Linked DNA regions of Homo sapiens. The protein of the gene in region 1 purifies or fractionates together with the protein of each later gene. This does not show direct contact. Each region holds a gene or a part of one and is shown on either strand. Other genes may lie near its edges.

What was found. Proteins that work in one complex are often made in the same cells at the same time.
Region 2: the proteins of KIF1A (region 1) and MAPK8IP3 fractionate together in Homo sapiens (co-fractionation; one large-scale study listed by BioGRID). This does not show direct contact.

Annotation. Positions count from the first base shown.
Region 1 is NC_000002.12:240,713,267-240,716,243, forward strand, and holds the end of KIF1A (kinesin-like protein KIF1A), read right to left. Parts: 3' UTR 501-2,977; downstream 1-500.
Region 2 is NC_000016.10:1,761,695-1,765,194, forward strand, and holds part of MAPK8IP3 (C-Jun-amino-terminal kinase-interacting protein 3), read left to right. Parts: intron 1-656; coding exon 657-787; intron 788-980; coding exon 981-1,037; intron 1,038-1,141; coding exon 1,142-1,312; intron 1,313-1,962; coding exon 1,963-2,089; intron 2,090-2,420; coding exon 2,421-2,516; intron 2,517-2,606; coding exon 2,607-2,765; intron 2,766-3,318; coding exon 3,319-3,484; intron 3,485-3,500.

The DNA.
Region 1 (2,977 bases):
CTCCCATCGGCCATCAGTGTGACGCTGGTCCACAAACTCCTGCCATACCTTGGACAAGACTAAGGCCCTCGTGTGCAATGGTGCGGCCTCTGGAACTCCAGGAGGCTCTGAGGATCTGGGCCCAGGCGCAGACCCCATGGACTAGAGACTCTGAAGGGTCCAGGCCTGAGGCTGCCTGGGATGGGTGCAGTGGCCTGGTATGAGGGTGGTAGGTGCTGTGTCCCTGGGGAGGTGCCTGGGGCTGGTTCACAGGGGTGCAACCGGTCACGGGAGGCAGGTGGAGGTTGATCCTCCAAGACCAGCACCCTGTGTACACTCAGTCTTCGACACCTTCCCCACCACCTCCCCATGCCCACCTCGAGAGCCAGCCCCTCCCTGCCTCATCACTGGGAGAGGGGTACTGTCTCTGGACCACGCTGGATGCATGCACCTACAGCCATTTTCCGGGGCCCTGCAACACACGTAACACGCAAATAAAGCCACAGCAGAGCCCATGGGACTGTGTTGAGTAAGAGCCACATTTATTTCTTAATTGGACAGAGCCTCAAGTGCACGCACAGTACAGGAGCCTAGGGCTAACACTCGGGTGTAAGACATCGGGACAGGCGTCGTGACGTCGGGACGGCAGCTATGACATGGGGTCTGGGGTGTGCCCACAGCAATCACATATGTACAAGCCAGGGACGCGGCCTCTGAGCCACAGGGGAACCAGGGGACGGACTAACTACAGGAAGCACAGGCCCAGGGAGAAACGCAGGTCGCCACAGCTGCTGTCCGTCTGGGGGACCGCACGGCCCGGCACCGGGGGTAAGGGAGTGTGCCTTCCGTGGTCCCCACATGGGTGAGGCTGGCATAGGACCAGTGCAGCAGCACAGTAAACACCTGTGACATCAGCCCCACCAGGGCCCCAGGTGCTGGGGACTCCAGGGACCAGGGTTGACAGGGAGGGCCACCTCATCACAGCCGTCCTGGGTGGGGGAGTTTGTGCCTGTGCAGCCGGTGGATGAAACATTGGCATCTTCTCAGCGATGACTCCCAGTGGGAGGCCTTGGACTTGGCACCCCTAGGCACTGGCCGTGTCCCATCAGATCCCAAGTGCTGGTCGGCCTGGAGCCCGGCATCCCCATCTATCTGGAGCCGCAGCGGAAGGAGCTCCCCCTTTCTGGTGGAGGATGGCTGCCCCCAAACCAAAACAAGCCCCCAGACTCGGCAGTATAAAGCATTAAATGAAACCATCTGAGGGAGACGGCTTTCCAGATCTGTCTCACCTCCCCCACTTAGCAGGAAGCAGCAGCCACCCTGGGCCTGGCTGTCTCCCAAGCACCGCACCCCATGAGCACCTCCACACCAGCCCTCCACCTCACAGATGTGGAAACCGACTCCTGGGGAGCTCAAGGAAGGCAGCTAACGTGGTCCCTAGGTGGTTTCTGGCAGAGCGAACTTTTCAAGAAGCCAGGTGTCCTGACTCAGGCGGCCTCCTCTCACCATCAACTCTGAGTTTCTGGGTCCTGGCTTAGGCACTCCTCACTAGAGCAGGCCCGGAAGGAGGGAGTCGGCGGAGGCTGCAGTGTGGCTCTGGGTCCTAGCCAAGGCCAACACGGCACCTGGCTGAGAGGACACAGCCAGGCAGTCTCCATGGCAGTGGAGGCTTCTGAATTTAGGCAGCTCCCAGGCACCTCCACTCAGCCCACCCACGCCGCGAGTGCTCTGCAGGTTGGCTGGCCTCAGACACCTGCGACCTGGGGGGTGCGCCCAGACCCTTTGGAGGCCACAGCCTCAGGCTGGCTGACCTGAGTTGGCCGTGGCAGGGCCTGTGCCTCCTCTAGCCTGCCTGGGGCCCGTGGGGCTCCCCCTCATCTCAGACCAGCGTGTCCTGCCCTGCCTCTCCTTCCTGCCTCCAGGCAGCGCTGGATGCCGGAGCAGGTGCTTCTGCAAGAAGCTGTTCTGCATCCTCTCCTTGCTGCATCTTGGTCCACTGCCTCCAGAGGTCACCCATGGGGAGCACAGGCCACCTGGCTTCTGAATTTTATTTTGGGATGTGAATCCTCACCTGGGAGATTTCCAAAGAAAGCTGCTGTGTCCTGTGTCCTGCCTTCCCAGGCGTGGCTTCCCGAGCCCTGATTCTCCCTCACAGAACCCCCCCATCAGCCCCTGGGAGAGCCTCCCAGGCAGGGGATGAGGGTGGCGGTGGCCACACCGCACCTGAGCCCAGGTACGAAAAGGCGAGCCCACAGTCCCAGCTCCCAAACAGGCTGGCCCAGGCAGGCAGCCACAGAGACTGCAGCCAGCATGGGCCCTGGCCTGCCCTGCACACCACTCTCGGAGATGGAACTTCAGGGGCCCAAACAACCTTCCCAAAGGAAAACCTCATGCCAGAGCCTTCCCATGTGGTGTAGAAGGCCCGTGCTCCCCCACTCCTGAGCCGCTGTCTCTCCCCCAGGCATGGGATTGGGGTCTCTGAGGCTCATGTCAGCATCACGTGGGACAGCCTGGGAGGGTAGGGGCCTCAGAACCAGTGGGGTGCTGCGTTTCCCCCACTCCAGGAGGCAGGATCTGATGAAAGTGCTGGGCCCTAGGTCTGGAGCACCAGACCCGATGTAACTGCTCCCACGGGCCACGGCGGGAGAGGGGCTCTGTTGCTTGGCTACTGTCTTTCCTTGAGCTAAAAAGAGACCAAATCGACCTGTGGGTGTGGGTGGGGAGGGCCCTAAAACCTCCCTAGGCCTCTGGACATGACTCCTATGACCAGACTCTCAGCTTGGGGCTGACCCCCGTCCTGTCCTGGGTGGCCCTCGGACATTGGTGTCTGCAGAGGGGGTGAAATGGGACAAGAACAAAGGGACACCGCAGATGCAGCAGCGAAGAGCTCCTTGAAGACAATAACCACCAAGCCAGCCACCCTCCATTGCCGACCGACCAGGATACCCCCACCCCATGGGATTTTCTCAGTGGGACTCACAGAAACTCTCTGCCCTGG
Region 2 (3,500 bases), on another chromosome or scaffold:
TTCACCATTCCCAGGCGGGGCGGCCACTGTTCCCACACATTCACACGCCGGGTGACCACTGTTCATACGCATTCACACGTGGGGCAGCCATCATTCCCACACATTCACACGCTGGGCGGCCACCATTCACCATTCACCATTCACACACAGTATATCCTACTATTCACACTCGGGGCATGGGGATGCGGGGTGCCTCCCGGGGACTCACCGGCGCTTCTGTCTCTGTACAGAATCAGTATATCCCACAATTCACATGCAGGGCTGGGGTGGGCACGGGCAGGGGGCCCAGGCGGGCTCCTGGGGACTCGCCGGCTGTTCTGGGCTGACAGCTCTCCCACCCCTCCTGGGTGACACCTGACCCCAGCGGCATCATCTGCCACCCCACTCCTGAGACCACATGGAGTCAGAATCAGGCCCTTGGGCAGGACCACAGCCCTGGCAGGATGCCGGGTCCCCTGTCAGCACCCAAGTCCTGGTGCATGCCTTTTGTATGGTTCCCCTCCCCGCTTGCCGACACCCCTCCACACCGCTTCTTGCCTGAGGATCTGAAGGAAATTGGCACTGAGATCCACCTATACGTGTAGGCACCCCAGGAGGAAGCAGGTGTCACCCGGCCTCCGAGGGCTGGCTGAGCCTCTGTGCCCCTCCCTCCGCAGGACAAAATCCCCATGGCCCAGCGCCGCCGCTTCACGCGGGTGGAGATGGCCCGTGTGCTCATGGAGCGGAACCAGTACAAGGAGCGGCTGATGGAGCTGCAGGAGGCTGTGCGGTGGACTGAGATGATCAGGTGGGAGTTGCGGCCACCCCAGGAGGGGCTGCGGGATCATCCCTGACGGCAGGACTGCGGCTCCCTCCTCTGCACCTCCCTGTCTTCTGGGGGGACTGAAGTGCGCTGGGTGCTTCCTGGCGGGAGCCAGAGAGTCGCAGGTAAGGGAGGCGTGAGGGCACTAGCAGGTTGCTCCCTGTGCCCTCCCCTGCAGAGCGTCCCGAGAGCACCCATCCGTCCAGGAGAAGAAGAAGTCGACCATCTGGCAGTTGTAAGCTGGGGGCCCCTGGGGGATGTGGGCAGCAGCTGCAGGGGAAGGGGCAGGGAGGTTCCCTGGTCCTCTGCCCACCCCTCACCTCCCTGTGCCTCTGGCAGCTTCAGCCGCCTCTTCAGCTCTTCCTCCAGCCCCCCTCCGGCCAAGCGCCCCTATCCCTCGGTGAACATCCACTACAAGTCACCCACCACTGCCGGCTTCAGCCAGCGCCGCAACCATGCCATGTGCCCGATCTCGGCAGGCAGCCGGCCCCTGGAATTCTTCCCTGACGAGTGAGTGTCCCGCAGCCCCCACTTGTGGCCTGCAATGGGGTTGGGGAGGCCCTGTCCTGAGGCTCCTCCCCTCCAGGCCCTGAAGCGGGACTTTGAGGGCAGCCTCCACCTTGCTGGCCACATGCCAGGGGCCGTGACCTCTCCCTGCACACTGCCTGCCCCTCCCTGCAGCGGGGAGCTGGGCTGCTTTGGCTCCACGGTATTTGGTTCAGGATGTCCCTTGGCAGAGGCTGTGCCCACCAACAGTCAGGGGGCTGTGCTGGGCTCCACGGTGGCCTCTGCAGCAAGGAGCCGTTTCAGGCGTCTGTCCAGCAGGGAGTCGCTGGTCATGCCTGTGCCCCGGCGGCACTCCAGGTCCCGGTCTGTGGAACCCTCAGTGACTGTGGCAGCAGAGCAGCCTCTGGGTCGAGCAGGGGCCAGCTGTGGCCTCCAAGCCCAGGGGCATAGCCGGTGCCAGGAAAGCCACCCTTCCCAGCTGGGCACCCAGTGCCGGGAAAGCCACCCTTCCCAGCTGGGCACCCGGTGGCCGGGAAAAGGCGAGGATGGGCCCAGGCGGGCCTCCCTGCCGTGACCTCCCCCAGGACAAGCCTGGGGCACTGTGGGGGCCGCTCACCCTGGACAGAGACATCACCCATCATTCTTCCACTCAGCGACTGCACGTCCTCCGCCCGTCGAGAGCAGAAGCGCGAGCAGTACCGCCAGGTGCGTGAGCACGTGCGTAACGACGACGGCCGTCTGCAGGCCTGCGGCTGGAGCCTGCCCGCCAAGTACAAGCAGGTGCGGGCGGGCGCTGCGGGGACCGGGCGGGGCCCCGCAGAGGCGGGGCGGGGGTAAGGGGCGGGGCGCTGTGGGGCGGGGAGAGGGCGGGGCAGTGCTAGGGGGTGGGAGAGGACGGCGGGTGGGGCGGGGCCTGGCAGGTTCCTAGTGAGCCTCCTGGGCAGGGGTCTGGAGGGTCGGAGAAGGAGCCCCGCGGCTCCCACGCCCCCACCTGCCTCCAGTCTTGAAGTGGCTGTGCCGCCAGAAGCTGGCAGCCCTACCTGTCTCAGATTTCTGGAGGGATGGGTAGGAGCCAGGGTTCGTGCCCACGGCGCCTCCCTGCTCCCTGCAGCTGAGTCCCAACGGGGGCCAGGAGGACACGCGGATGAAGAACGTGCCGGTGCCGGTGTACTGCCGCCCTCTGGTGGAGAAGGACCCCACCATGAAGGTGAGCCCGCGAGGACCCCGCTCAGGCTGGCTGGGCGAGCGGGAGGCTGGGGAGTGCCGGTGACACCCGACCTCGGCCCTGCCCTTGCAGCTGTGGTGTGCCGCGGGCGTCAACCTGAGCGGGTGGAGGCCCAATGAGGACGACGCTGGGAATGGAGTCAAGCCAGCGCCAGGCCGCGATCCCCTGACCTGCGACCGCGAAGGAGACGGCGAGCCCAAGAGCGCCCACACGTCTCCCGAGAAGAAGAAGGTGAGCATGGCCGAGGCCACCGGGCACCCTCCCTGGCTTAGTCTCAGGACAGCTCAGCTGCAGAGCATGCTGGGAGTGAGACACAGGACAGCTGGGGACAGCACCCGGAAGCAGGGCAGCGCAGGGGCTCCTAGACTGCGGGAAGCAGTGTCTTCCCTCACCAGGACTGAGCCGCCTTCTGGGTTTTCAGTTTTCACCCCCCAGGTGGCCTGGAGTGGGCCTGCACTGGGCTGCAGGGGTCAGGCAGGCAGCAGGCACAGAGGAGCCCAGGAGCGGCAGAGCTTGCCTCCCAGTGGTGGGAGGCTTAGTTTTATGCCCAGCTTGGGCCTCTTGGAGCTCAGGGGCCTCTTCTGTGGAGGCGAAACCGTGTCTGTGAGTGCTTTAGAGTGCAGTCCTGAGTCCGCATTGTTCTGGTCCTGGGGGAGGACAGCCATGTCCCCTCAAGCTGTAGTCAAGGCTGGATCCTGACAGATTCTGGGAGCCCCATGGCCCTGTGCTGCCACCGGGTAGCCTCAAGCTCGGGCTCTGACCTTGATCCCGTGCCCTGAAACAGGCCAAGGAGCTCCCTGAAATGGACGCCACCTCCAGCCGGGTGTGGATCCTGACCAGCACCCTGACCACCAGCAAGGTGGTGATCATCGACGCCAACCAGCCGGGCACGGTGGTGGACCAGTTCACCGTCTGCAACGCGCACGTGCTGTGCATCTCCAGCATCCCCGGTGAGCAGCTGGAGTG